Linked DNA regions of Homo sapiens. The protein of the gene in region 6 purifies or fractionates together with the protein of the main gene of each other region. This does not show direct contact. Each region holds a gene or a part of one and is shown on either strand. Other genes may lie near its edges.

Evidence for each region.
Region 1: the proteins of SLC6A12 (region 6) and ESYT2 purify together in Homo sapiens (affinity purification with mass spectrometry; one large-scale study listed by BioGRID and IntAct). This does not show direct contact.
Region 2: the proteins of SLC6A12 (region 6) and PARP16 purify together in Homo sapiens (affinity purification with mass spectrometry; one large-scale study listed by BioGRID and IntAct). This does not show direct contact.
Region 3: the proteins of SLC6A12 (region 6) and PIGX purify together in Homo sapiens (affinity purification with mass spectrometry; one large-scale study listed by BioGRID and IntAct). This does not show direct contact.
Region 4: the proteins of SLC6A12 (region 6) and DHCR7 purify together in Homo sapiens (affinity purification with mass spectrometry; one large-scale study listed by BioGRID and IntAct). This does not show direct contact.
Region 5: the proteins of SLC6A12 (region 6) and JPH1 purify together in Homo sapiens (affinity purification with mass spectrometry; one large-scale study listed by BioGRID and IntAct). This does not show direct contact.
Region 7: the proteins of SLC6A12 (region 6) and RER1 purify together in Homo sapiens (affinity purification with mass spectrometry; one large-scale study listed by BioGRID and IntAct). This does not show direct contact.

The regions. Positions count from the first base shown.
Region 1 is NC_000007.14:158,759,803-158,764,083, forward strand, and holds part of ESYT2 (extended synaptotagmin-2), read right to left. Parts: intron 3,364-4,281; coding exon 3,281-3,363; intron 1,743-3,280; coding exon 1,694-1,742; intron 346-1,693; coding exon 256-345; intron 1-255. UniProt on the Homo sapiens protein: Tethers the endoplasmic reticulum to the cell membrane and promotes the formation of appositions between the endoplasmic reticulum and the cell membrane. Binds glycerophospholipids in a barrel-like domain and may play a role in cellular lipid transport.
Region 2 is NC_000015.10:65,279,603-65,283,883, forward strand, and holds part of PARP16 (protein mono-ADP-ribosyltransferase PARP16), read right to left. Parts: intron 1-4,281. UniProt on the Homo sapiens protein: Intracellular mono-ADP-ribosyltransferase that plays a role in different processes, such as protein translation and unfolded protein response (UPR), through the mono-ADP-ribosylation of proteins involved in those processes.
Region 3 is NC_000003.12:196,722,160-196,726,440, reverse strand, and holds part of PIGX (GPI alpha-1,4-mannosyltransferase I, stabilizing subunit isoform 2 precursor), read right to left. Parts: intron 4,027-4,281; coding exon 3,885-4,026; intron 1-3,884. UniProt on the Homo sapiens protein: Stabilizing subunit of the glycosylphosphatidylinositol-mannosyltransferase I complex which catalyzes the transfer of the first mannose, via an alpha-1,4 bond from a dolichol-phosphate-mannose (Dol-P-Man) to the glucosaminyl acyl phosphatidylinositol (GlcN-(acyl)PI) intermediate to generate alpha-D-Man-(1->4)-alpha-D-GlcN-(1->6)-(1-radyl,2-acyl-sn-glycero-3-phospho)-2-acyl-inositol and participates in the sixth step of the glycosylphosphatidylinositol-anchor biosynthesis.
Region 4 is NC_000011.10:71,441,808-71,446,088, forward strand, and holds part of DHCR7 (7-dehydrocholesterol reductase), read right to left. Parts: intron 3,152-4,281; 5' UTR 3,146-3,151; coding exon 3,048-3,145; intron 2,480-3,047; exon of another isoform or gene 2,409-2,479; coding exon 2,186-2,408; coding exon of another isoform or gene 2,150-2,185; intron 547-2,149; coding exon 456-546; intron 1-455. UniProt on the Homo sapiens protein: Oxidoreductase that catalyzes the last step of the cholesterol synthesis pathway, which transforms cholesta-5,7-dien-3beta-ol (7-dehydrocholesterol,7-DHC) into cholesterol by reducing the C7-C8 double bond of its sterol core.
Region 5 is NC_000008.11:74,255,379-74,259,659, forward strand, and holds part of JPH1 (junctophilin-1), read right to left. Parts: intron 4,126-4,281; coding exon 4,007-4,125; intron 1-4,006. UniProt on the Homo sapiens protein: Junctophilins contribute to the formation of junctional membrane complexes (JMCs) which link the plasma membrane with the endoplasmic or sarcoplasmic reticulum in excitable cells.
Region 6 is NC_000012.12:207,412-211,692, forward strand, and holds part of SLC6A12 (sodium- and chloride-dependent betaine transporter), read right to left. Parts: intron 3,158-4,281; exon of another isoform or gene 2,794-3,157; intron 2,633-2,793; 5' UTR 2,576-2,632; coding exon 2,362-2,575; exon of another isoform or gene 2,346-2,361; intron 1-2,345. UniProt on the Homo sapiens protein: Transporter that mediates cellular uptake of betaine and GABA in a sodium- and chloride-dependent process.
Region 7 is NC_000001.11:2,397,791-2,402,071, reverse strand, and holds part of RER1 (protein RER1), read right to left. Parts: intron 2,658-4,281; coding exon 2,558-2,657; intron 1,216-2,557; coding exon 1,137-1,215; intron 1-1,136. UniProt on the Homo sapiens protein: Involved in the retrieval of endoplasmic reticulum membrane proteins from the early Golgi compartment.

The DNA.
Region 1 (4,281 bases), on a different chromosome or scaffold from region 6:
CTACAAATCCCTGCACTTTAACAAGCTCAAAACTGAAGATCTGATAAAACAGGTATGAAGGACCTATAAATTTCATTTTAAAAACTCCATTATCTTTAATTTATCCCTGATGCTACTGTAGTGACTTATTACACAATAATGAAAATTACTGCTATAATTGTTAAAAAATCAAGTAGCAACACAACTGAGAGACCAAGCTCAGTTATGAGGAGTAGTTGGTTAGGTAGTTTTCAAGAGCACATGCTTCAACAGCACCTTGTCGAGGTTTGACGCATTTGGCATTAACGTGAGCCACTCCAGTCTCAAGTGTAGCTTCCCCTTGGGAACCTCGTCCAGAGTGAACCACTGAAGAGAAAAAATGTTTACGTTCAGCAAAAGTTCTTCTGAATCAAAAATCCAAATTAAACCCAGTCTCTACAAATGTTCCATGCTGCTCACTAACCACGAGGCATCAACAGTTCTCAGTAACGCGAAGGCTGAGCCTCACCATATCCAGCTCTACGCTATGTGGATGCCAGTGACCTCACGTTTGGAGGCGATGGCAGCAACAGGTGTGAGCGACCATTCTAAGTGCTTTACACACACCAACCCCGTGACCCCGACAGAAACCCTAAGCAAGTACTAGTATCATTCCCACTTTACACATAAGAATTCAAATGTTTTCTAGCACTACCTAGAGACAGTAAAGTCTTCTATGAATAGACTTCTTTTTTTTGAGATAGGGGTCTTGCTGTGTTGCCCAGGCTGGGCTCAAGCGATCCTCCTGCCTCAGCCTCCCCAGCAGCTGGGACCACAGGTGTAGGCAAGCATGCTCCACCAAATGGCCTTTAACGGAATGTACAGGGTAAGAGGTAATACAACATTGATTCCAAATACTGAATTTCAGTATCAAACGATTTAATCTGTTTGTTCTAATTCATCACTCTATACTAATAAAATAGTATACAGTTGTATCAGCTTAAAAGTCACAAAATAATTAATCAAAGATGCTCCTCAAATGCTAAATGATAGAAGCCATGGGCAGGACTGTCCATCCAGTGCCTGGCACACCCAGGAAAACGAGATGTCACAGCCAATGAATGCTGAACACTCAAGGGAAGGAAACGTGTGATTACGAAAGCAGCAGAATTCAACACTTTTGTTTAATTTTGCTTCATTTATCTAAATCTTACCCTTCTTTTAGAAGCCACCACAAATGTTTCCTTTTTGATACTTTTTATTCTGATAGCAATAAAATGGTGGAAGTCGAGTCTCCTTGCCATGAGTTCCCACTGTCTCTACAGGCATCTCTCACGTGAGATGCCTCACTGGCCGCACTGTGCCTTCTCCACCATTCCCTCCAAACACCTGAAAATCTCCATCACTAGGGGGCATCTCGCACAGCCCTGCCCTTACTCCTGCAGGGGATCGCATATTTGTCTGCAATAACGTCAGTTTATGCTTCATATCCGTAAGGATTCCCAGCATATGGTAGGGACTCAACACGCACCTGAATGGACTCTTAAATTTATTTTTCATTTGCTATTTCTAAAAGGCCTAAATTCTTAGTATATGTTAAGTAAATGTTGTTCATGCCATACTAATTAGGATTCCGGCACTGTGTGATGGTGAAGGGGTGGTTCGTGGCTCCTCTGGCACAGGGCAGGGACTCAGTCAACAATTGTAAACAGACCCACACTCCAGGGAAACTTACTTCATCTAAAAGGCGCTCCTTTTCAACTTCAATGAGGTCAATCATAAGACTATAAAAATAACAATACGACAACTTTAGAACATAGAAACACATTTCTTACTGAAACAACTTTAAAACATAGAAAACACATTTCTTCCTGAAACAACCTTAAGCATTTGTCTATGAACAAGCACTCCAGAAATGCAACAAAACGCTAATAATTTATCAAGGAACAGACTATTTTTCCACAAGCTTCCTCCAGCTCACCCCCAGTGTCAGGAGAGTAAGGAAGAGTGAGGTGGAGTTTCTGTGAGCTCAGAATACTGAGTTTGGCCCAGCTGAGGTTAGAGCTGTAAAACAAAAACAAAAACAACTCATCTTCCCTACAATGTTACATGCATCAAAAAATGTTTGAAAGCATCTCAACCCTCTTATTTTACACGTCCTCTTGGAACGTCTTATTTTATACGTTCACTCACAACTCCAGTAGGGTTGTGCGTTACTGTGGATTCCTCACTCGCACAGTGAACGCTAACCTCACGTTCCCCCACCCTTGCTCCCAGGCTCTAGACCCATGCTGCATTGAGCCCGATGGACGCCCTCACTCGGTGCATCTGAGAGGAGGCCCATTCCCGTTCCCCTAAACCTCCCGTACTTCCAAGATTGGCACCACCCCCAGACGCCAGATACAACTAGATGGGATGATTATACTCCCACTTCTTCTTGTAGCCTCTTCTGCCCCCCACAATCTATGTCTACACCGCCTTCTCTCTGTCCTGGTCTATGACACACTCTCCTATTTGGTCTGCCAGTCTCTAAGCTCAGCCCCCGACAATCCAATCCACACAGTGATTTTCCTAGAATGAGCACCTGATCTATCCTGTCTGGCTTAAAATCTCTCAATTGTTCCTAGTTGTCCTGGGAAGTCTCATGAACTCTCAAGTCAGGCCACAACGTGCAAGGGCCATTCTTGATGAGGTATGAACCTCTCCAATGTATTCTATCCCTACATCTTTTTTGCCACAATTTAATTCAGTCAAATAACTTAATTAGGTTAAATTAATCAGAAATAATTGATATTAACAAATGGTGGTCAAACAATAACCATTTTAAAAGTTTATTTTTAAAGCTATACTAGTTGTTCAATTGAAGTGAACAAACCAGTATTTATTTTCCCAATGTGAATTACTATATCCTGACAAAAATTAATCCAGCAACTCAAAAAACTTAAAAAACCCATTTTTGCAATCTGGAATAGAACTGTCCACTAGAACTCAATACGGCGGCAGGTTCTGCATGTAGCTTTAAGCCTTGTAAACAAAGAGAGTGCCACTCAGATAGTTTTTAATTTATTTAACTTTAATTAACTTAAGGCTAGTGCCTGCTGTAATAGACAGCACAGATCTAGAAGACTCACTTCTCTTAAATGTGAAACTTTTAGGAATAAAAATGTTTTAAGAAATCCAAGGTGAAACAATTGTTATATCTAAGAACCATTTAATGAATAGACAACAAGTATACAAATGTATTTTAAAACATACTTTTGATTATTAAACAAAAAGACTGACCCCATGCCCTCCTCCAATAACCACAATGGGCTTTATTTACCTTCCTAAAAAGTCATCCTTGTCTGGGTCTTCATCAAAGAGCTCAATCTCTAATTCTTGTCCAGGATGTTCATACACTAAAGCCTAAAACATCAATGGTTAGTAGTTAAGTGCATTTTTACTAATATAGTCATACACTGAGTATGATATGATGATTGTAGTAAATATGACCAGGTACTTTTCTCTGGTGGTAAATCCTTATTTATTTATTTATTTATTTATTTATTTCTGGAGATGGAGTCTCGCTCTATCTCCCAGGTTGGAGTGCAGTGGCACAATCTTGGCTCACTGCAACCTCCGCCTCCTGGGTTCAAGCGATTCTCCTGCCTCAGCCTCCCAAGTAGCTGGGATTACAGGCATGTGCCACCATGCCCGGCTAATTTCTGTATTTTTAGTAGAGATGGGGTTTCACCATGTTGGCCAGGCTGGTCTCAAACTCCTGACCTTAAATGATCCACCCACCTCGGCCTCCCAAAGCGTTGGGATTACCAGTGTGAGCCACCGCACCCAGCCAGTAAATTCTTTTAGGACACTTATTTTTTTATTGTCAAGTCACACACACCTCTTGAGGACGGGAGGTCACTGAAACACCTGCCACACAGTAACAGTCTACCGTGCTTGTTTCTAGGGATCCTGGATTGCGTCTCAATAGATCAAGTTCAATCACTCCAACAAGGTCATGATACGTCACCCACAAGCTTGGTGCAAGGCATGAGACAGACCAAAGATCCAGGACACATCCCTCTAGTCCTGAAGTGGCTCCACTCAGATGCTATCTTGGAATAACCACGAGTTATCTGCTTAGCACCACTCAGGGTAAGAAACTGGCAAGAGACCAGACTCACAAAGGAGTGGGGGAGAGGAGTCGTACGGTGAAGTATAAACCGTACGACTGTTCTGAAGGGTAATTCTACACATACGTCAGTCCTTTAAAAACTGGTGGAGTATAAATCACACGACTGTCCTGAAGGGTAATTCTACAAAGATATTTCAGTCCTTTAA
Region 2 (4,281 bases), on a different chromosome or scaffold from region 6:
GAGGAGCAGAGAAATAAAAAGGTAATCTGAGAGATCAAGAATCTTACCTTGAGATATCAAGTATAGACCTAATAGGCACTTTTATTATTAACAAATCTAATTGTTATCATTTCCTCACCATCCAGCAGGTATGGGTGCTCATGAAAATGATCAAATCAGTTACTAGAAAAATAGAAAAGCTACATATTATCTGTAAGGAAACAAACAAAAAATCTCAATGCCAAGGCTGCACTTTAAACCAATCAAATGAGAATCTCTGAGGATGGGGCTCAGACGTCAGGGTTTTTTTTTTTCCTTAGTTTCCCACGTGATTTCAATGACAACCAAGGTTGAGAGGCTTGTAAAGAATGATCTTTCCAAACCGGGCTCAATGACACAACTCCTGCTTGAGACCAGGAGTTTGTAGACCAGCTAGGCAACATAGCGAGACTCCTGCCTTTTTTCTTTTAATCCAATAATAATAATAATAACGATCTTCCCCAGTTAATGTCAATATTCAATTTCCAATATGGAAATAAGCATCGAAAGCCTTCCTTAGAAAGGTTAGCCATGAGCCAGGTGTGGTGGTTCACGCCTGTAATCCCAGCATTTTGGAAGGTTGAGACAGGCGGATTGCTTGACTCCAGGAGTTTGAGACCAGCCTGGGCAACATGGTGAAACCCCATCTCTACTAAAAATACAAAAATTAGCCAGGCTTAGTGGTATGTGCGTGGAGTCCCAGCTACACGGGAGGCTGACGTAGGAGGATCGCTTGAGCCCGGGAGGCAGAGGTTGCACTGAGCCAAGATCACGCCACTGCACTCCAAACTGGGCAACAGAGCAAGAACTCGTCTCAAAAAAAAAAAAAAAAAAAATTAGCCATGGACCAGCAATTTCACCTCTCAGAATGTATCCAAGAAGACAACAACAGATATAAACAATGATTAATGTAGAAGGATGTTTATCAAAGTATTATTTATAAAAGCAAAATTTTAAAATTATAAAGAAACCCAAAAGAAGGACTCCTAACTGCTAGGGAGTGGAGGCACAGAATAAGGTGGAAATTTCACGTGTATCTTAAAGGATGAGAGGGAGTTTGCTTCAACAAAGATGGAAATGGCATCAGGAGGGCTCAGGACAGAGAGGAGCTTATATGCGCTTTAACCCAGACACTGGGGAGTCATGGTGTCTAGACAGTGCAAGCCAGAAACCAGAAAGAGGGAGGAAAAAAAAGAGAAAGACTCCTTACTCCTCCAGGACCAGGAGGCCCAATTAGAGCAGTTTGGCACCCCAAATGAGAACAGGGTAAGCTTCATGCAGTGCTTTTCAGACTTCACTATGTGTACAAATTGCCCAGATTTGTTAAAATGCAGATCCTGACTGGATAGGTCTGAGGCAGGACCTGCTTTTCTAATGAGCACCCAGGTGAGGCTCATGTTGCTGGTCCTCAACCACACTAAGCAGCGAGGGCCTGGAGCTAACACAAAGAAGCCATTCCCACACACTTCCCACCCCCAGAAAGGGTCTACAGGCTAATGGAGAACCAGAACATGCTATTTCGGGAGGGAAAACAGAACAAAAAACTGTACAGCTGCGACTGTGTCAAGTGACAAACCTGAAGTTCGGAGGCCAATGGTTAAGGGGTACAGGGAATCCCAAGAATGTTACAGGTTCTCTCATCCAACCCTGGTCCCAAAAAGCAAGGTGAGAAATCCTGAGCCTGGGTATTCAGCACACGCACAATGTGATTCCTCAAACATTTGATAAGTACTTCCCAGGCCAGGCACTGGAAATACCAAGAGCTCCCAGTGTAAAATCAGAGAGCTGGCCAGGCACGGTGGCTCATGCCTGTAATCCCAGCAGTTTGGGAGGCCGAGGAGGGCGAATCACCTGAGGTCAGGAGTTCAAAACCAGCCTTGACCAACATGGTGAAACCCTATCTCTACTAAAAATACAAAAATTAGCTGGGCGTCATGGCATCTGCCTGTAATCCCAACTACTAGGGAGACTGAGGCAGGAGAATCGCTTGAACCCAGGAGGCAGAGGTTGCAGTGAGCCGAGACCGCGCCATTGCACTCCAGCCTGGGCAACAAGAGGGAAACTCCATCTCAAAAAAAAAAAAAAAATCAGAGAGCTTATCAGCACGAAAATGGTCTCAAAACAAGACACCTCAGGGATAATTTGGGACTTTGAGGACAGTGGTAAGATAAGGCTAGATCAGACCTAAAGCCAAGAGCTTGGTTCAGCAGTGGGGAGTTCTCAGGAAATCACCAATCAATAAAGTAATTTAAGGCACAGGTCTAATTTTTGGAAACTGCAACCCTTGTGTTATAGGTGTGTAATAACACCTCACAGTGTGGACAAAGATTTAAATGACTGAAAATGGTAAACTTTCACATTACTTCCTAGTGCTTTTAGCTGAACAAATGAAAGTGAGAGACTTTTTTTGAGACAGGGTCCCACTTTGTCACCCAGAATGGAGTGCAGTGGCACAATCACGGCCCACTACAGCCTTGACCTCCTGGTTCAGGTGAACCTCCGACCTCAGCCTCCCAAGTAGCTGGGACTACAGGCGTGCACCACCACACAGGCTAATTTTTTGTAATCTTTTTATAAAGACAGGGTTTCGCCATGTTGCCCAGGCTGCTTTCAAACTCCTGGACTCAAATGACCCGCCCCAGCCTCCCAGAGGGCTGGGATTACAGGTGTGAACCACCGTGCCCAGCCAAGAGACTTTTTAACAGCTCCATACTTTCCTTCTTCAGGTAACTACAAAATGATCTAGCCAGTCCATTCCAGACCTGATTCCCTTTTCTTTAAAAGTTAGACTTTGATTCAGATACAGATCCAGATGCCCAGTTCTCTGCATCATTTCAGTAACTCATGTGACGTGGCAAAACGAGGCCTAAAGTGTGTGTTTATCTAAGAATGTATGCATGTCCCCAGAAATGGTGCCAGGCCCCACCTGTGAGCAGTCTTGCTGCTGACGGCCATGCCTACAGACAGCCAAGAATCTATGTAGTCTGGGCTATTTTCCTCAACAATGGTGCCCTATAAGGAATATGGCAACAGAAATGGATGGTAAGAATGCGTGTTTCTCCAGTAGCCCTCAAGAGAAAGGGTAACTATCTGGGACTGGTACAATAAACCCCATGGGAGGGGCAGTCTGTCTCTATAGAGGAGGTGGCTTTTTGGGGCAACCTACGTTGCTGATGCTCTCTTAAGGGATTACAAGTGGGGCAAGGGAGAAGGGGGAGGATGGGCCCCAAACAGAGCAATTGATACCTTTGCAGAGGGGTGAGGGATAGAGTGAGATCTATCAGGGGCACTTTTACTTTACTGGTATCATTTGAATTTTTTATAATGAGAATATATTCAAACATTACCTGCATAATTAAAAATAAATTTTAAAAAGCATGATCAAAACAACTCCACAAGCCCCTTTGCATGTATCCCATATTCACCAAACAAACCTGATTGCATTCGCCAAGACCTTCCAGCAGAAAGAAAATAAGTTCCAGATTCTAGTCCACTTAGAGATATGTTTCTTGGTAAAAATTAAAGCTGCACTGTGGCCAAGTGCAGTGGCTCAAGCCTGTAATCCCAGCACTTTGGAAGGCTGAGGTGGGAGAATTGCTTGCGCCCAGGAGTTCAAGACCAGTCTGGACAACGTTGTGAGACCCCATCTCAATTTTTTTTTTTAAAAAAAGCTGCATTGTGAGTTTGATCCCTCTGACCCCAAACACTCCTCCCAAACAGGTCCCTCTCTCACCCTGCCACCACAGGTGTCTTTCTGGATCTCACCTCTATACCCTCCCCTGCCCAAGGATAAAAATCTCCACAACTTAGCAGGGCATGTGTAGCCTTGCATGCTCCATAGGCTGGCCTCATCTCTTCCTGTTCCCCACAACAGTCACACTAAATCACAGTCTTGTCCTTCTCTGTAAGCTCACACCTCCTGGCTGACCATCCTGCTACTCCTCCTGGAATACTCTTTCCCTCTTCTCTGCTCTTGAAGTTCTGCCTTGGGACTTGGCAAGGCATCAGCCTCCACCCCTAGATGGTGTTCCCTGAGCCTGGCCCAAAGCTGAGAGCTAGGGGGTGTCCTTGCTCTGGGCTTCCATGTTGTACGGCGCTTACCTAGTATGAGAGGTTAACACTGTTAACCTCTCCACGGGTTAATCCTGTATCCTTAGCACCTGTCCCATAGCAAACACTCCATAAGTATCTGTTGCCAAAACTGAATGAAGTTTCGTACCCAAGGTCCTGATACACCACACTCAGAAAATTGAGTATCTGAAC
Region 3 (4,281 bases), on a different chromosome or scaffold from region 6:
AGGCTGGAGTGCAGTGGCACAATCAGGGTGCACTGCAGCCTCAAACTCCTGGGCTCAAGTGATTCTCCTGCCTCATCCTCCCAAAGAGCTGGGATAATAGGCATGAGCTGCCTATTCTTTTTTTTACCTAGCCTCTTATTTTCTCTTTTTAAGACAAGGTCTCACTCTGTCACCCTGGCTGGAGTGCAGTGGCATGATCATGGCTCACTGAAGTCTCAACCATCTAGGCTCAAGCAATCCTTCCACCTCAGCCTCCCAAGTAGCTGAGACTATAGACACACGCCACCATGCCTGGCTAATTTTTTGTATTTTTAGTAGAGATGATGTTAATTCTAACATCTGGGTCAATTCTGGATTGGTTTTAACTGATTGATTCACCTCCTCATTATAGGTCATTTTTCCCCCCATCCTTGCCTAGCTGCTAATTTATTATTACAGTCAAGAAATTGCTAATTTGATCTTGCTGGATATGTCTATATCCCTATACATATTCTTGAGCTTTGTTTGGGATGCAGATAAGTTACTTAGAAAAAGTTTGATATTTTTTTAAGGTTTTGTTTTTAAGATTTGTTATGCAGGACTAAAGCAATGTTCAGTTTGTGGCTAAGTATTCCCTGCTACTGAGTAAAAGTTCTCTGTTTTTCCATTGTTCAAGAAATTATAAGGCTTTTCTCAGTCTGGTTGCTGGGACGAGGTACTACTCCTGTCCCTGTGTGAGTACCAGACACTGTTACCGCTCATTTTGTCAGATGGCTCTTTCCCTGGCATCAGGTAGTTTCCTAACATATACACACTGATAAATACTCAGCTACATACTTGAAAGGAACCTTCTGTTATTTCTGCAGTTCTGCCTCTATGACGTTCTCTCCCCTCTGGTACACTGTCCCGTGAATTCTAGTTACCTTGGCCTGCCCAGCATCTCAACTTTATCTCCTCAACTCAAAAAGTCCACTAGGCTCTGCTTGAGTTTCTCCTCCCTGCATTAAGCCTGAAAATATTCTCAAGGAAATAAGCTGGATGACAGTAGGGCTCACCTTACTTACTTCCCTTCTCTCGGATATCTCTGCCCTTCATTGCCTGATATTCAATGACTTTTTTCATTATTTCATATATTTTGTCTATTTCTTGCTTGTTTCAAGTAAGAGACTAAATTTGTTACCTGTTCTCCACTTGACCAGAAGCAGAAGCCTTAATACTACATACTTTGAGTAAAACTTATGGTTTCAAAAACTGTTTCCATTTTGACCCACAAAACAGCAATTTTATACGTTTCAATCTAATATTATACTGCTTTCAAAGAATCTAAGAGACTTCTGATGAAAAAATATGTTTAATAACCCTACCTAAAAAAGTGAAATGAGGTTTATTTGATCTGCCTTATCCTTGGTGAACCTACTTAAGGCTTGCATTTATTTTCAAATTATTCACAAACCATCACAAACTCCTTACAAAGCATTTTGCTGGCACACCACTCATTTAATCTGGGCCCACAGTTCCATTTGTTGCAGCCAAAAATTTTATTTCCTGGAGCAGAGTCAAGACATTAATCCAGGTATACAAGCATCAATCAGTCCCTACATATAAATTCCTTCTACCCAGTTACACTTATTATATAATAACACTTAGCATAACAAAGTTTCTCTGTACGAGGAATTGGGCCATAATCTCAACTAGGCAGAAGGAATATGTCAGGCATCAAATTCCATATATTTAAACGTCACAAATGTAACATCTATTTTTCTAGAAGTTTCCAAAATAAAGAAGTAAATACACTTACAAGGCTTATAATTATGGATTAGAAGATTAGAAAGCAGAAAATCAAGATCAAGATAAACTTGTTAATCAATCTATAATGGCACTCTCTACCTGTACCCTTTTCTTCTAACAGTCAACCTTCAAACATCCAAATCTCATCCCCATCCAAAGATATGAATTTTTGGGTAACCCCCATCCAAAAAACTTTGATTTTCTTAGAACACGGTAAGTGATTTTATTAAGTAGATTTAAATATGATTCCAACCCATATCCTTACAAGCCAAAAACTGTGTTGAAATTTGAAATCTATTATTTTAAATTTGAATAGCCTCATTTAGAATTCATAATTCATTGAAGAAAAGAAATGAGATCCTTCTGGCCGGTGGCTCATGCCTGTAATCCCAGCACTTTGGGAGGCCAAGGTGGGCAGATAACCTGAGGTCAGGAGTTCGAGATCAGCCAGGCCAACATTGTGAAACCCCACCTCTACTAAAAATACAAAAATTAGCCAGGCATGGTGGCATGCACCTGTAATCCTAGCTACTCGGGAGGCTGAGGCAGGAGAACTTGAACCTGGGAGGCAGAGGTTTCAGTGAGCCAAGATTGTGCCACCGCACTCCAGCCTAGGCAACAGAGACTCTGTCTCAAAAAAAAAAAAAAAAACATTAAATTAAAAAAAAATGAGGTCCTTCCATAATTGTATGTGTATGTAAACTGTCATACATACACAAAAAACTGAGAACACACTTGCTGATTAGTGGTTGACACAGGCAGAATGTTATCATTGCATACCTTTTTATATCTACTCAATGAACCCATGAGAATGTAATTACTTATTCAAAAACAATTAAAATAAAATAAATGGATAAAGAAACTGGCCTAAACCACGATTAGAAATAAACTGCCATCATGAATAACTATAGATGCATCTATTTTACAGTTTTAAAAATTCGTAAGTAGATTATAATCTTATCAACTAAGACAGTGTCTCCCAAAATTTCTTAACAGAAATCACCTAGGTTACATATACCTACTGCGTACCCACAATAATTAAAAAAAAAAAAAAAAAGAAATCATCTGGGTTCTTCAAACCAGATTTTGGGGCCCAATCTAGGCCTACTGAATCAGGATTTCCCTGGAAGGCAATACTCTGTACAAAAGTGCCCCCAGGGAATTCTTACCAAAGTTGGGGAAACTTTTCTAACTACGGGGTAAGATTCAGGTCCAACAAGGGCAACAACATTACAACTAGACAATCTTGGATCCATTTTTTGGCTCTTCCAATTATCTATGTGATTTTGGATAAGTTACTTGGCCTCTTTGCGCCTCAGTTTCTTTTTTCTTTGAGACAAAGTCTCATTCTGTCACCCAGGCTGGAGTGCAATGATGCGATCTCGGCTCACTGCAACCTCCGCCTCCCAGGTTCAAGTGATTCTCCGGCCTCAGCCTCCCAAGTAGCTGGGATTACAGGCGCCCACCACCACACCTGGCTAATTTTTGTATTTTTGTAGAAACAGGGTTTCGCCATGTTGCCCAGGCTGGTTTCGAATTCCCAAGCTCAGGCAATCTGCCTGCCTTGGCCTCCCAAAGTGCTGGGATTACAAGCGTAAGACGCTGCACCCAGCCCTCAGTTTCCCTATATATAAAATGGAGATTCCACCTCCAGGGTTGTTATAAAGATTAATTTATGTAAAGGGTGCAGGACACGATCTTTCTTTTTAAAAGAAAATGAAGATATCTGGCATATAGACATCTATTAAATATTAGTTTCTTCTCCTCACATATCAAACTTACCCAGATGTTGGGGTATATGTCATTCTCATTAACAAAGTTACTGTTGAGGCACTATTTATTAATCATTAATTTTCTCAAGACATACACATACACCCAGATAATTTTCTTAGTCACTGAACTATGAACCACCTTAAAAAGCATTTAACTAGCTCAGTTTAGTTGGCTTATTCCTGACAAGAGTCACTCACTTGTCAAAGACTATGCCCAGTCTATCTCTAAAAATGTCACTTTATACACTTTAACAAAATGAAAAGAAAACCTACTATTTTTCCTTAATCCAAACTACAGCACCCCTAAATTAATTTCTCTCCCAAAAAATCCCCTAATAACTGTACCTCTGTTATGTTTCTCTCTCGTAATGAAGCCAACTCATACGGATCCACATAAAGTCCTGCAGGAATGTCCTGTTTAATTAAGAGACGGCAGGTGTGCAAGTCCTCAATGCTTTCCCCAAACTTCACTTTGATTAAAAGGTCTCTGTAAGACAAGTACATTGAAAGTAAATCTCTTCATTCAACTGTTAAATGAGATAACATAACACTGTATTCCTATTAGTGAAAACACTGTATTTCAAAATTCATTTTCCAAAAGTAGATTATAAGGTCAAATGAAATATTTATAACATGTCAGAATCATCCATTAGATCTTTCATAATTCATGTCATAAGCCACTATAGCATTATTGTAAAAATAGACAAAGATCAATGAAAAGGAATGGAATCCAATAACATTC
Region 4 (4,281 bases), on a different chromosome or scaffold from region 6:
CCACCCCTCAAAACAGGGAGCTTCTGGGGGCAGAGTTGGGATGCGGTTCCAGTCTGCACCCACGTGAGAGGCACAAAGCCAGGCTCCTCGTGGGTTCTCAATGATGGCAAGGAATGAACAGACAAGGTCTCCCACGGACAGCCCCGAGGAATGGTGGTCTCTGCATGGTGGTCTCTGCAGGAAGCTTCATGGGCCGAGTGCATCCCCTGCTATGGGGCTGGGAAGGAGCTGGGCCATCCATTCCCTCCTTACCCAGGAAAGTGATTTCTAACCTGGGTGTGGGATGGCCCCAGCTGCCCTCAATGGTTTTGAGGCCTGGTGCTGTGAAAAATCCAAGCAAAATGGATTTCTATCCTGTGACAAGTCTTAGGGACAAAGCAGCGCTGGGGAGGACTGGCCCCTGAGAGAAAGGGATGAGAACGGGAGCCTGGGGAGGGTGGAAGGGAGGAGGCTACCTGCAGGAGTCACGGCCCCCTCCTGGATGCCTCCTACGTAGCCGGGTAGAAACTTATGGCAGAAGTCAGGGAGAGACGTGTACAGAAGCACCTGAAACACACAAGCAGCCTGATCACCCCCCGCCTGGAGGGCACCTGCAAAGGGGGACGCATAGCAGGAACATGAGAATCACAATCATAGTCTTTTTCTTCCTGAAGCACTTATGGCTCCTGGAAGCTCAAACTGCTGGGCTGTGGGTTTTGAAGGGGGTTCTGAGACAATAAACTCATCAACCAGGGAAGGTGCCAAGGCGTTCTCCCCCAGGGCTCCATTCGCCCCTCAGGAGAGCGCACAGGTCCCTCCCAGTCACCTTTTTAAAATGGAGAATCCCATAAAATTCAACTTTTTATATATATATATAAATCTATCTTTGAGATGAGGTCTTGTTCTACCACCCAGGCTGGAGTGTAGTGGTGCAATCATAGCTCACCGCAGCGTTGTCCTCCTGAGCTCAAGTGATCCTTCCACCTCAGCCTCCCAAGTAGCTGGGATTACAGGTGTGCACCACCACACCCGGCTAAAATTCACCCTTTTAAAGTGCACAATTCAGCGGCATTTAGCGCATTTACATGGTTGGTTGTACACCTATCACTGCTAATTCCAGAACTTTTCATCACCACAGAAGAAAATGTTGTTCCAATCTCCGGTCACTCTGAATTCCCTGTCCCTGCCGCCCCTGGCTGCCACTGAGCTTTCTGCCTCTGTGGATTTGCCTGTACTGGGTATTGCATATAAAGGGAACCACACAGTATGCAGCCTCTGTGACTGGCTTCTCTCGCTCAGCAGTGTCTTCAAGGGTCATCCGCCTACTGGCATCAGAGCTTCATTCCCTTCCGCTGCCAAATAGTGTCCCACAGTGGGCACAGTGTTCTGTTCTGTGGGTCCATTCATCTACTGATGGACAGGTGGGGGTTCCTGCTTTGTGGCTATTTGTGATTCACACTGCCCCTGTCATTTTTCACTCAAAGGGACCAAGAGATCTGAACTGAGAAGTATTCTGGAGCCCAGAAGCTTGGACCCTGGGGAGAAACAGCTAATCATGATCTGAGCCTTCCTCCCGCCCAGGAAGGAAAACCCAGGCCTGTCTCTTTCTAGCACCGTTTCCCTGGAAACCTTTTCCTGGGTTCAGGCAATCAGCACCACCCATGTGTGCACCAGGTTTACAACAACCCCTTCCTGGAACTCCCTCTGGACTGGGAGGCCAGTGGGGACACCATGGAGCTGAGGACGTCCTGGACCTGCCTCGACTGCCTGTGGGGAAACATGGCCCTCGCTTCTCTGAGTGGCATCTCATGACTGAGAGAGTCCCTTTGGGGACTGAGATGCTCCTTTCCAGACCTGGTGCAAGGCGTGACTCCTGCTGACAATGGGGCTTCCTCAGGACAGCACTGCCCTCCCACGGGGTTTTGCTCCTATCCTCAGCTTGTCCCTGCAGAGCTGGGCGTGCCCAGCAACTGCATGCAGGCATGCCGTGAAGGTGTATCAAACGCTGATGTGACAGGTGCCTCCTGCCTTACAGCTGAGGATGAATCTGAACATGTCAGAGTCCAGGGAATGCCCTGCTGGGTCCCGGGAACCCAGATGTCAACCTGAGCCAGGATCCATGTCCCAGACAAATGGAAGGACTACCCCAGCAGGAGGGCACGCTCCCCACCTGCTGTGTCCCAACCCCAGGGCAGGGGCTGCTGACCTGGAAGGTGACCCACAAGGTATAGAGCTGGGCGGCTTTCCTCGTTATAGGTGGAGTCTTGGCCCAGATGTCCGAGAGCCGAGCATGTCCGGTGACGATGTCCACCACAGGGCCAGTCAGGGCGCAGCTGTACTGGTCACAAGCCATGATGAAGTAGTAGACGATGAAGGGGGCGAACAGCAGTAGGAAGATGACGCTCGCCAGTGAAAACCAGTCCACCTCCCTGCGAGGACGGATGCAGGCAGTCACACTGGGGCCCATCTGCCCTGGGCCCCACCAGGACCCTAAGAGGCTCTGTGTGGGAGAACTGTTGCTCAAACCCACCAGTACCCCATGACAGAAGGCATTAGCTCCTAGCACGGGCCCTCCTTGCGGCCAGGGAAGCCACTCAACATGCCTGCTCTACTGTAGTTGATTAACTGGTGGCACTATCTGTGGCCCCCATGGAAGGCCCAGAGCTCAGAATATGAGCGGAGGTAGGTCTTTCACAACCACCAAGGCCAGTGGTTTCCCCAGTTCCAGGTCGGAGAGGATACTCACCCTGCACGAAGTCCCCATGGTTCTATGGCGAAATGGGAGCTGTGACAATAGGTCATACCCCCAGATGGTGGGAAGGCCCCAGCTGCCCTTTAAGCCTTTATCTTTTTTTCTAAGTTGTTGACTGACCATGATTTCTAGTTTCTTTTTATAATTCCTTACTTTATAAAGTGGAAAACTGTTTACCTTTCATTAGTCTTGACAAAAAAAAAAAAATCTTTTTTAAAAAGGTCCTTCATTCCTTTGGGTCCATACAATTCCAAAGGCTGGAAAGCTCTGAGACCACACTTTACTTTCTAGCTGGGAGAACAGGCAAGATCCTTACCAGGCACGGCCCCACTGCCCTTGAGATGCGGTTCTGTCATTGGTGACGCCATCTAGACTCTTGGCTTTGGGAATGTTGGGTTGCGATTTTGCAGCCATTGGGCCCTGCAAGAAAGAGAACCTTGCTTACATTATCCCTCAAATAACAGACACCACCTTTCCCTGTTGCATCCACCACTGCTCCTGGGCCTGGCAGGGCTGGCCTCCTGTGCACATCTTCCCGGTACCTTGTTCCTGACAGCAGATTCCAGGCAGGGAAGAGATCATCTTGTCTTAGACTCTCTTCCTTGGACCCTGCAATCACCTCCCACGTGACCTTGCTATGGCTGCTCTTGCTAGTCTCAGTTCATTCTCCAAACATGGCAGAATGCCCCCCCTCTTACAGCACAAGCTGGCTCCTGCCTCCCTCCTACACACCACTCTCCCCTATTCTCCTTTGGCTCCAGGAACACAGGGGTCTTCACTCATCCTTGAACACAGTTTAAATTGTCTGTGGCACTGACTTCCTCTGCTTAGAGCACGTTTGCAGGTGTCCTTGTTCAGGGCTCATGTAAAATGTCCCCTCCTGGGGAGATCTTCCCTCTCAGCCAATCTGAAGCAGCTGCTCCCCAGCTTCCCTGCCAAGGCCCTCCACTGGGTACTTTATTTTCTTAGTAACTCTCCCCATCGCCTAGAAGTATTCATTTGTGTGTGTGTATTGTCTGTCTCCCCTCACTAGAATGTAAGCTTCCCAAGGGCAGGAATTGTGTGTCCTCTTCATTGTTCTACTACCAGGGCCTAGAACAGTGGCCCATGTAGGACCATCAATAATCACCCTTCAAAAAAAAGGGGAAGAGAACACAGAATGTCTCTAGGTACCCACAGCTGCTCTACATGGTTATAATTTGGGGGAAGCAGTGACATCCCCACTTCCAGAACAAGTTCATAACTGTGAAGCTTTAAAATATCTGAGATTTTTTAAAAGATGCTCTTGAAAGCTTTTAGAGAAAAAACAGGAGTAAAAATCACAGTAGGCTTAGATTTCTCAACAGCAAGCTGGATTCTAGAAGACAATGATGAAAAACTTCAAAATTTTGAGGAAAACTTTTTGCAACCTAGAATTCTACTCCTATGTGAACTATTACTCAAGGACAACAACATAGGATCCAGGAAACTGGAGACCCAAGAGAGCTGCTGAAGCCATGTCCACAAAAGGGCAGGGGCAAGTCCCAAGAGGACAGCTATGCAGCAGGACT
Region 5 (4,281 bases), on a different chromosome or scaffold from region 6:
TATACAAAAATTAATTCAAGATGGATTAAAGACTTACATGTTAGACCTGAAACCATAAAAACCCTAGAAGAAAACCTAGGCAATACCATTCAGGACATAGGCATAGGCAAGGACTTCATGTCTAAAACACCAAAAGCAATGGCAACAAAAGCCAAAATTGACAAATGGGATCTAATTAAACTCAAGAGCTTCTGCACAGCAAAATAAACCACCATCAGAGTGACTAGGCAACCTACAGAATGGGAGAAAATTTTTGCAACCTACTCATCTGACAAAGGGCTAATATCCAGAATCTACAATGAACTCAAACAAATTTACAAGAAAAAAACAACCCCATCAAAAAGTGGGTGAAGGATATGAACAGACACTTCTCAAAAGAAGATATTTATGCAGCCAAAAAACACATGAAAAAATGCTCATCATCACTGGCCATCAGAGAAATGCAAATCAAAACCACAATGAGATACCATCTCACACCAGTTAGAATGGCGATCATTAAAAAGTCAGGAGACAACAGGTGCTGGAGAGGATGTGGAGAAATAGGAATACTTTTACACTGTTGGTGGGACTGTAAACTAGTTCAACCATTGTGGAAGTGGGTGTGGCGATTCCTCAGGGATCTAGAACTAGAAATACCATTTGACCCAGCCATTCCATTACTGGGTATATACGCAAAGGATTATAAATCATGCTGCTATAAAGTCACATGCACACGTATGTTTATTGCAGCACTATTGACAATAGCAAAGACTTGGAACCAACCCAAATGTCCAACAATGATAGACTGGATTAAGAAAATGTGGCACATATACACCGTGGAATACTATGCAGCCATAAAAAATGATGAGTTCATGTCCTTTGTAGGGACATGGATGAAGCTGGAGACCATCATTCTCAGCAAACTATCACAAGGACAAAAAACCAAACACCGCATGTTCTCACTCATAGGTGGGAATTGATCAATGAGAACACATGGACACAGGAAGGGGAACATCACACACCGGGGCCTATCATGGGGTGGGGGGAAGGGGGAGGGATAGCATTAGGAGATATACCTAATGCTAAATGACGAGTTAATGGGTGCAGCACACCAACATGGCACATGTATACATATGTAACAAACCTGCACGTTGTGCACATGTACCCTAAAACTTAAAAAAAAAAAAAAGAACTCAAACAAATTTACAAGAAAAAAACAACCCCATCAACAAGTGGGCGAAGGATATGAACAGACACTTCTCAAAAGAAGACATTTATGCAGCCAAAAGACACATGGAAAAAAGCTCATCATCACTGTTCATTAGAGAAATGCGAATCAAAACCACAATGAGATGTCATCTCACACCAGTTAGAATGGCGATCATTAAAAAGTCAGGAAACAACAGAATAATGCAGTTTTAAACTAAACAACATAAGATTTAATTAAGATGGAAAATATCTGAAAATACTGCCAGCTCCTGAAAATAGGTAATTTGCCATGGAAGCGTTCAACATGTAAGCTATGACAGGCATCTTTTATTCCAGGGTTAACAACTTCTATGCACGAACACATGCATTCCAAACAATGGAGACTTTTATATCTGAGATATGTAAATTAAATGGCCAGCCTAATTTAGAAGTACTTGAAAGCCCTTTTCGAAAATGTCTATCTGATTTGCTCACCCTGTAAATGCAAAGTGGAGAGCATGAGTTATGCTCCCTTAAGAAGATCAATAATACCCGCGACAGAAAAGGCTTTCTATACAGTTGCTGAAGAAAGTGCTGGCTGTGTGTCAAAGGGGACTGCAGCCTCCCCGACAAGCTCTGGTCTCAAATAGACCCGCTGTCGTCCATGCTACTGTGATGTATTCATTCCTGACGGACAACTTGCTTATATGAAGCTGTTTTAGCTAAGAAAGGGTGGCATTACATTTTCCCACAATATTTTTTTTCCCTTCAAATGCTTTTACACCAGAAAAGGCTTTTAAAACCATTCAGTCTGGGAAACCAAGATGATCTTTCGTATCATTTACCTCTTGTTAACACCTGATAGAAATCTAAAGGGACCCCATTCCCCAACAGAATTAACAGAACCAAGAAATTACCATCTGCAGACAACAGTAAGTTTGTTTGCTTTCAAAGCCGCTCAAGCCCAGTGCCTCCTGATCAGTCAGGTTCTTTCCAATGGCAGCACTGCTAGGGAGGAGAGAACAATTTCTCCTGGGTGGCTGAACCCTTTTCCCAGCTCTCACGCCCTGGAACAGCTAATTTGCCAATATACGTAGGTACCAGGGAAGTATGAGTTCATTTCACGCCAGAGGAGAGTTTATTCCTACCAGAGGTCGCTGCAAAAAATGGAAAGGTTCCTTTTCCTAAAAATTGCATATATATAAAAAATGATTTAAATCTCAACCAGAGGTTTAAAAGAGATGCGTGTGAAAGAAAATACCCTTCTCAGTGGTTGCCTTGGACTTGAACTCTTAGAGAAGTCACTCTGTGATGATGATATCTATCATTCAACAACCACCTTGGGTCCCTCCCCAGCCTTTCTCTTATAAAAACCGAATCTTCTTTGCCTGGCCTTTTACTGTCTTCTTTCTTTGCAGGAACCTCCTGCCCCCATTCTCCAGGTCATTTCTCATTGCTCCATCCTTGATTATAGCCAAGTTTCTAGCTTTTCTACAAATCTTGCTATTTTGTTCACTTTGACTTACATCGTTCGTTAGGACTCAGTGATACCCTGTGGGTTCCGACAGCGTATACCCCTCACCAGAGCCAAACATGAATCGAACACCTACCTCATGCAGGGTGCTGGGCTAGGGACAGGATGCTAGTTATACAGCTTGATTTAATAAAAACCAGTGTGGAAAAATCCTTTACCAAGAAATGTAACTTTTAACATAAATTGAAAACATTTATTTTGGTTTCTTCACCTAGAAATCTGTTGATGCCTCAAACAATCACGGAGAATATATATAAATAGGTGAATATTGCCTTTTTGAAACTCAAAACAAAAACACTAGTATATTATAGAGAGGGGTAGAAAGAGTCTACTAGGAAACTACTAGAAAGTGAATTAAGAATTTAAACTATTGCAAATATTTGTTGATTGCTATTTTGTAACATCTGAGAGGCAGATGACCAAGATCGATTTTTTTGAGGTTGTCACTTTTATTTCTTCCATTGTGACATGCATTTTCCTCTTACTCTGTGCAGATTAATCTCTTTAAGTGGTATGCTGCTATACTTCCTAACCACAGTCCTTTGAACTTTGAACTTTAGTTCAGATACGTTAAAAAAAAGTCACAGTACTGACTGGCTCTTCTCTTACTACTAAAAGTGCCTCTGAATTTGGGGGTATTTGTTATAGAATCTGTAGCTGTCACTAAAATAATTTCTTAGAATCAGATATTTTAGATTCTTGTCTAGTTTACTGCTATCAGCTCAAACTTTGTTGGTCATATGTAGAGGGGAGGAAGGGTGAGACTCTGGGGAATAACCCATCTCCAGGGCTAACACTCAGACCTCGGGTGATATTTGTTACTACAAGTTGAACATTCCTAATCCAAAAATCTGAAATGCTCCAGAATCCAAAACATTGTGGGCACCGACACGATGCTACAAGTGGAAAATTCCACATGACCGATGGTCACAGTCAAAATGCAGTCAAAACTTTGTTCCATGTGCAAAATTATTAAAAATATACTATAAAATTACCTCCAGGCTATGTGTATAAGGTATCTATGAAACATAAATGAATTTCGTGTTTCAACTTGGGTTCCCAGCTCAAGAGATCTCACTGTGTACATGCAAATACAGAAAAATATCAACAAATCTGAAATCTGAAACACTTCTGGTCCCAAGCACTTCAGATGAAGGATCCTCAACCGCAGGCGCCCTTGCTTGTTTTGTATAATAGTACTGCTGGGATTCAGGAAGCACACATCTTTATGTTGAAAGGAAAAGGAAATAAAAGCAAGCCAAAGCCAGTGCTCCTGCCTCACCCATCAAAGGAGCACTGTTTTACCTGGTTGGTAGAAATCAGGTGACAGCTCCCTGGCCACAGCTCTCGCGATGTCGCACTCCTGGCGAGCGGCCAGCGCGGCCTGGTCGGCGGCATCGGCCTTCGCTCTGGCATGTGCAGTCCTACACGGGGCACAAAAGGACGAGTCAGCATAGGTGACCCCTTGTTACTTACACAGGGACAAGCAAATTGTAATCTGGGAAAAGAAATGTTAATTATGATTATGGCCCGACACCCACAAGAGCAAAAATTTTAGAGTCCTATTGCCGTGAAATTTC
Region 6 (4,281 bases):
TTGAGGTGAGTGATTTCTAGTTCAGGGGCTCCCCTCTTTTTCATAACCAAAGCCCTCATTAGACCAATAGTTTTATTACTCTTTTTTGTTTCTTTTGAAAGATTTTTCTCTACAGAACTATGTTTACTAATTAATAATCAATAAATTTCCCTGCATATATTAATAAAATTATATTTAAGTGCCAATCAGGCCTTATGGTCAGCTTGATATAAACTTTATTATCACTCTGAGTTAGTACAGTTCAGTCTAAAGCAAAAAAATAAAAGACATTTGGACTAGTCTGTGACATCCTGTTTCCACATCCATCCATCATTAGGTTGTTGGAAATGAGAAAATGAATTCCTGGCCCTTCTTTACTACATTTCTAGACCCCCAAGGACCAGTGACTCCAGAAGGGGACCCCAACCTCATTTGGCCCCCTCATGTTAAAGATGAAAGAAAGGGTGTCTTTCCCAAGAGTTAGGCTGGGAAGGAGGTAACCGGATCCGATATTCCATAATGTTACTGCGGGTACTCATCTCTCTCTCTCCACCCCACCCCACGGCCAGGACAGAGGCCACAGCCACAGCAGCAGCCAGCATGACAGGACAGAGGCAGGGTGGGCGCCCGACACCGCGGCCCTGCCTCCCAGGCCCTAGTGCTGTCTCCCTCCCAGATGGCTGGGTGAGGAGTGTGCCGTGACGCAGAAATGGTTCCAAGGCCCTCTGCAGTCCTGGGCAAATCCTCCTCCACTAAAGGAGGGCTTAGTCTGAGCACCTCCATCTCCAGCCCTAACATCCTATATGCCATGAGATGGTGGCCCTGGATGAAGAAGGAAACCACCACCCTGCCCCTTCATCTTGCCTCCCCTGACTTTCTGGCCCAGGGTCAGCCTCAGCACCAGAGACTGAGCCAGCCCAAGAAAGCCTACCGCTATTTCTTAGGAGTTGTCAGTTCAAGCAGCTTGTGATCGCAACTATAAGGTTTAAAACACATAGCAAGATACACAGTAGACCCTCCGTAAATATTGGTCAGATTTAATATAAATAGTGTTTAGGAGGATTTTCTCAACAAATTATCTCTAAATGTGAGTATTCCTTTCTACCTTCCTGAAATGTTTCTAATATTTGCAATAAACATATACTGTTTCCACAAGAAAAATAAAAGTGATTTCAAAAGGCCAAAAAAAATGAATCTAACCACTCACAAAGGACGGCGCATTGAACGATTGTATTCCTGTGAAATAGCCCAAATAGGGATCCATCGAGATGGGCAGCACATAAGCGTTGCCAAGGGCTGGCAGGGAGAGGGAATGAGGAGCGACTGCGAATGAATATAGGATTTCTTTCGGGGATGATGAAAATGTTCCAAAAGTGGTTGTGGTGATGGCTGCACAATTCTGTGACTATACTAAAAACCACTGAATTGTGCACTTAGAATAAGGAACTGGCCCCTCCCCACCACTGCTAATTTTTACACCCAGTGCTGAAAAATAATAAAATCATGTTTCTCTAACTTGAAAAAAACTCAAAGGCAAGGTATTTCTCCAACCAAAATTGCTTCGGTGGCTCCCATCTCAGTCAGAACAGAGCCTGAGTGACCCCTGTGACCTGTCCAACCTCAGCCTGAGTGATCCCTGTGACCTCTCTGCCCTCACCCGGTTATTCTCTGCCTCTCTCATTCCATCCCAGCCACACCTGCCTCCTCACTGCTCCTCAGACAGGCCTGCAGCTTCCACCCCCAGGACCTTGGCACCTGCCGTTCCCTGTGTCAGAGTGTTCTCCATCCAGGATACATCCACGACACTCATGCCTTCACTTCCTTCAAGTCTGCTGAAATGTCACCTTCCCCTCTGCACGCCTAGCATTCCCTATCCCTCCTCCCTGCGTCACGTCTCACCCCTCCACTCATCACCATTTGACATAGACCACGCGGAACCGTTTGTCCGCAACCTGCCGCAGACACAGTACAACTCCTCAGAATCCTCCCACGGAGGGTGGCACACGGAATGTGTTCTGTTTTGCACCTAGCGCCGGGTCTGGCACGTGACAGGCCTGCAATCATGTTCACTGAATGAATGACTGAATTCTATCAATGATTGACCTTTACATAGTCATGAAGGAGCTTGTTAAAAACTAGAATTTCTTGGTCCTGCCCATTGCCCAGTTTCATCTTCACCGTCACCCTGGGAGGTATTGTCCCCATTTCACAGAGAGGGACGCTGAGGCTAGTAGTGGAGCTGGAACTCAAACTCAAGTCCTCCAATTCCAAAATAGCCCTCCTTTTATAAACCACACTGCCCAGGAAGGAGGGCCCAGGTAGGCACTGCCCAGCTGCCAGCACACAGCTCTCCCCACCATGCCTACCTCAAAGTGAACTCACCACCTCCGTTTTTGTAGCAGAGATAGGGAAACCTCCAGACATTGCCCAGCCCAATGATCTCCCCGGCCACTGACAGCACAAACTCCATCTTGTTGGTCCATTGGCCCCGATCCTTCACCTGGTCCTCGTCTTCCTGGTCCAACTTCTCTCCCTCCTCGGGGACCCAGGAGACTGCAGGAGGCCCACACTCTTGCACTGCCACCTTCCCGTCCATGGCTGTGTGGTGGGTTGGGAAGCCCCGCTGGGTGGGCAGGATGACGAGGGCCAAAGCCTGGTGGGAAGAGAAGAAATTAGCTGTAAAACCCGACATGCTCCCGCCAGCCCTGCTTTCCCATCCCGATCTCCGCTGTCAGCATATTGTTGTTCTTCCCAAGTGCTCCATGGCATTTACACCTAAAGTTCCAGTTCGTTCTCGTAACTGTAAGAGCAAACCTTAGTTTTCTGAGTTTGCAGATGAGGAAATCCAGGCCTTGGCAGATGAAGTGATTCACCCAAGACCACTCAGGAGTGGAACCGTGATGAAAACTCAGGCTCGGGCTTTTCATTTTCATGTCCCTTTTTATCTGTACAGCTCGCCACCATCCCAGCCGGCCCATCTGCCCAGGTCCTTGATGTCTGCTGAGTGACCTCAGCCTAGCCTCTGGCCTCCAGGTCAGAAGGGATCAAAGCCTGCCGAGGTAGCAAGGGTCAACGGGCAGGTGTGGCCGAAGTGACTGCATGGTTCTCTCCTAGCCAGCTGTGTGCTAAGGTGATCGATCAGCTCAGAGTAAACAGGGGAGCCAGCAGCTCTGGGCAGCTGATTGGGAGGAAAAGAGAAGGTGGGGCCTCTGAACAAGGCCAGATGACAACAACGATTGGCACCAGGGGCAAGTGTGAGCTTTCGAGGGAGCCCCAGCTCCTCTTCTCTCTGTTGTATCTCTGTCCTGAGAAAAACTAGGGGGCCCTGGTGCCAGAAGGGATCACCAGACCAGTTCTCACCTGGCTGGCAGTCACCTCCGGATGACCCCCAAGGTGACCAAATGACGGGCTCCTCAAAAGGGAGGCCCAGCAGTGGCTGCCCCTCTCAGCAGGTCACTGCCCTTCCCTTCTCCCTGCCCTCCTAGAGAGCCCAAAGCTCCCTAGACCTCCAGAAAAGTGACGTGGGGCATTCTTAGTTCTACTCTCTGTCCCTTGGCCTGCTTGTCAACTGCCAGGAGACAAATCCGCTTCTGTCAGGGTGTATCTCCAATCTATGTTTGCCTTCTCCTCCCTCTCATACACACAAACAATCGCCCTGAGGCCACCTCTGCCTTTATTCCCAGGAATTGCCAAGAGGAGGTGCCCCAGGCTGTAGAGGGGAGCACCCATCCCGCAGCCCCTCACCTCTGAGGGGTATTGAGGGAATCAAAGCGACCAGGTCTACCAAGTGCCCCACGCTCCTCCAAGGCTCTAGAGAAACAGGGATTCTTTTTATTAAGGAAGAGTCTGTGTTTATTTACTGGTCCTTTTAACCCAGGCAACAGCCCAAGCCCAAGTCAGTTAGAAAGGCGTGGGCAGGAGCCATTTGAGGTAATGGAAATTTTTGAAGGTGACTTGGAGGGTGCAGGTTATCCCAGGAATGGGAAAGCATGTCAGAGTGAAATTCTGGTATTGGGACCTACTCAGAGCCTTCCACTGTAAGCTCAGCCCAGGAGGGAGGATGAGGATAGCCACCCAGTGGGAATCAGAGGCCTTGAGTCTCTGTTATGAGGGAGAAGGCAGGGGAAAAGAGGGAGGAAAGAGAGCCTCTGGGTTCAGAGTATGTGATCAGACCCATGGGGGCCTTGAGCACTGGAGCCTGGGGATGAAAAAATGGGGAGTTGGGCCCCAGGGGAGAAGTTGGTAACATCTGAACCCAAATGTGGATGTTGCTACAGAATTAGGAATGAGGCACCCTGAGAA
Region 7 (4,281 bases), on a different chromosome or scaffold from region 6:
GGCACAGCAGCAGCAGGACCCTTTGCATGTAGCTCACAGACATGTACTGCCCTAACCACAGAAACATCCTTCTCTTACTCCCTTGAAAGACACAATTCTTCTTAAAACTACACAAAGTATAAAGCATCAGTACTGAGGCTGGGGGCCCCATGCCTGCTGGCTGGGCCTGCGATCTGGAGAGAAACCCAGGCTGTGTCTTGTGGACCATCCAGGGCCTTCACCTTGTCACTGTGGCATGGCCACCAGTGCTCCCTCCCGTCCCAGCACATGGCCAACAGATGCCACGGCCCTGGAGGCTCAGCTCTCCCTTCCTAGTCCAAGCTTCTGGTGGCTTCCAGGGCCCCTGATCTTTCTGTACCACACTCCATCTGCGGCTGCAAAGTCAAGGCGTGGAGCCCCACGAGCTCAGCAGGCTCCTTCAGTTTACTGATCTAACAGACTTGGGTTCCTCCTGTGCTCCCAGAGTGGGGTATGAGGGACAAGACAAACGGATGCACACGCTCCCGTCCCTCTGACGGCTGCACCACCCACCTCTGCCTACCCGTGCAGACACGGACACCTCGGCTCAAACCCCTCTCAAAAATGACTCCAGGAGAAGGCTAGTCCCTCTGCCAGCCAAAAGGAGCCACAAGGCTGGGGATGGGAGAGAGGAAGGAGGAAGGAGGGAGGAGGAGGGAGGAGGAGGGAGGAGGAGGGAGGAAGGAGGGAGGAGGAGGGAGGAAGGAGGGAGAAGGAGGGAGGAGGAGGCAGGAAGGAGGGAGGAGGCGGCAGGAAGGAGGGAGGAAGGAGGAGGGAGGAGGGAGGGTGGAGGAGGGAGGAAGGAGGGAGGAAGGAGGGAGGAAGGGAGGAGGAGGGAGGAGGAGGGAGGACAGAGGGCCTGCCCTCCCCAGGCCACAACCACAGAAGCCGGTGCGCACTCCATCCCAGACTCAACCTCCAGGGCACTGGTGCTGACTTGAAACCAAGAGAATGCGGCAAGGTAGTGAGTGGCCTTCTACAGAGAGCCCCTGCGATTCCCCGTGCCCAGCCCAGCACAGCAGTCATCTTTCAGGTGACTTGAACAAAAATCAGTGTAGTCTCAGTCTCAGCCACCCTTGAGCACAATTCTCTTCAAATACCGTGAAGAATTAGCTCACCAAAATTTAAACTCTGGGAGCCTTCGAATGAAGGGGCGGAATTCCTCGTTCTGTTTGGTGGGTAGCGAAGGACCGTCATCTGTAAGGCAGAGCAACCATCAGGGAGGGCACCTCTTTTCATTCCCATCACAGTTCTACCTTTTCCCCTCAAGGCTTTGGACTAGCAGGCCTCACAAATCTAAACCGAGATTCATGTCATTTAACCAGAGAAAACGAGAAAACGGGGGTCTGTGGTCAACTGACACATCCAATTCACTGCTTTCAGAAGGTGCTATCAGAATGTTTTTAGACTTCCACACGTTTTCAATGCACGAAGAATTCAACCACATATAAACATCCAGGAACACGTCAGCTGCACCACGTAAAGGCACAGAAGAAAACAAAGGCAAATTAACATAAAAAGCAAGCGGCAGAGAACAGGGCGGGGCCGAGGATGCGCTGACCGTGGAACCCGGGCGCCAGGCCTGTCCCACCAGCAGCTGTGCCAAGCCCACTCTCACCCCGCCTCCCCCACTGGGATGGGTGCCGCTCCCCATTTACAGATGGGAAAACTGAGGCCTACAGGAAAGGGGCTCTTTGTTATTTTCTAGTCTCCTCCAAACAGCAACAACAGAGAGGGGCTGTGTTCCCAGCAATCTTTTCATCACATATCCTACACAGAAGACTCACAGGCTTCTGGCCACACAGTGAGAGCATACCCTACTCCCTGACAGCAGGTTCCCCCAGAACGAGGAGGGTCCTGGCAGGGAGCTGCGTGTGGGTTTTCCCTCAATGGCCACCACGTCCTGGAATGCAGTTGTTTGTTCCTCGCCTGGGGCTGGCCAGTCAGGCATGAACTCAGGGCCCCTACCTGGCCCAGGCAGGCCCAGGAGCTGCGTAAGTCTTCCAATAGTGGAGCACGAAGCACCAGGAACACTTCAGCTCACAGCTCCTCAGAAACCAGAGAAGGCCGCCCAAAGCCTGACCCGACCCGATGCTGGCATTAGAGTCCCGGCGGTCTCTGTGCACCACAGTGAGCTGCCTGTGGAACCCTCTGGCTACGGGAAAAGGTAACCTCGTCATGGCTGCCTCCGCTGATTCTGAGAGGGACCACTGACTGGGGTGGGACGGGGGCTGGAGTCGGACTGTCCACCTCAGACCCCTACTGTCTGTGGTGCCATGTGACCTCGAACACGTTACCTAACCCTGTATGCCTCAGTTTCCTCATCTGCAAAGTGGGAAAACAGAATGAACACCCACTTCGTGGCTGTCAGGAGGGTTTGAAGAGTCATTCTACAAACATATCCTGATCACCCAACATTACAAGTACATTTCAACCCCAAGAGAAGAGTCTCGGGTGTTTCCAGAGAACACTGGGCAATCCCATCAGAAAAGAAAGGCCCAACCTGCCCACACAGCCCAGTGCACAGCCGCTACCCTACCTGAGTCTTCCATTAAGGAAGGATCCACTTTGGGAGAAAGAAAAGCTATGAAAAGATTTAGATGGTAGATCCCCAAGGCATAGGTCACAATGTACCAACCCTGAAAGAGAAGGAAAGAGAGTCAGTGGTGCACTCTGACCGTCCATCAGCCTGAGCCAGTTCACGTTTGCACTCCGGTTCACTCTCAACTTTGTTAACTGATCTAACTTTGTTTTAACACAAAACTTACTCATAGCAAGGACAAGGAAATACAGTGAAATCCCATGGTAACAATTTATCTCAAATTATACTCTGTGGGAACAGAGACAAAGCGGACAAGCAAGGGCCCAAATGAGCAAAGCTCTTCAAGGGTCCAGTTAGACACATGTGATCCCTGAAGCCACAGACGCCCCACAAGGAGCGCAGCAGAAAAGGAGGCTTTTCTCAAGAAGCACATGCTCAAGCTACACCACAGGCTCGGGTGGCCCGGGCACCTGAGCGATGCTGGCCCAGAGCCCCACCCAGGAGCAGCTTCATCAGAAACAGAAGACAGACTCTCAACTGTGACTGGAGGCGTGCTGGCTGATGTTCCTCCAACAGACAATTCACATTGCCAAAAACACTCTGCCAGGAGGGTTAAACCTTTGCCCAGAAGAAATCCACAACTGGGAAATCCAGAAAAGTGTGCTTATGCCAAGCCTTCCTCAAGAGATGAAAAGTGGGGAGAATTTTGGCAAGATGCCTGAGTGCAGCACACTTATTTGCAACTAATTCATTTTTTAAAATGATTAAGCATATCCCGTTAAAAGCCAGAACCGCATTCTCAATTTCAAAAGCCTTAAATTTCTGTCGGGTGTGGTGGCTCACGCCTGCAATCCCAGCACTTTGGGAGGCCAAGGCGGGTGGATCACCTGAGGTCAGGAGTTCAAGACCAGCCTGGCCAACATGGTGAAACCTCGTCTCTACTAAAAATACAAAAATTAGCCAGGCATGGTGGCACATGCCTGTGATCCCAGCTGCTCGGGAAGCTGAAGTAAGAGAATCACTTGAACCCAGGAGGTGGAGGTTGCAGTGAGCCAAGATCAGGCCACTGCACTCCAGCCTGGGCGACAGAGTGAGACCCCATCTCAAAACAATAAATAAAAATATAAATGCTTTAACTTTCTTATACAAACAAGAAGTCTTTCTGCCTAAAAGCTTTTCCAGTCAGACGGCTGAACGCCAGATGTGAGGGCTAACTGATGTCTGTGTGTCCATCCCTGGCTGAACGCCGGATGTGAGGGCTAACTGATGTCTGTGTGTCCATCCTCGGCTGAACGCCGGATGTGAGGGCTAACTGATGTCTGTGTGTCCATCCTCGGCTGCAGGGCCACACCTGAAGAGACGCCAAATGAGGCACGAGCTTGGTTTCGAACGCAATAAAACTGACCTGTGGGTGCTGCACTCTTCCCGCCCCCTGCTCCTGCCTGAAGTCCCTGATTCAAGATTTCTAGGTCATTCTTTCCATCAGAGAATGGACCCAGTTCCAATTTAAAAACAAAAATAAATAAATAAATTAAGGTGTGTGCTTTAAACAAGGAAGTATCTTCTACAGTCCCCAGAGGAGAAAATAGCCCAGACAAGGCTTTCAACATGCCCTGCTCTGCACATAAGATTATGTAACCTCCTCTAAAGACCGACGAAGAATTCCCATCTTACAGGTTTGCTCCTAGAAACCCCGTGTTTACCAGCAAGTAAAGGAGCAC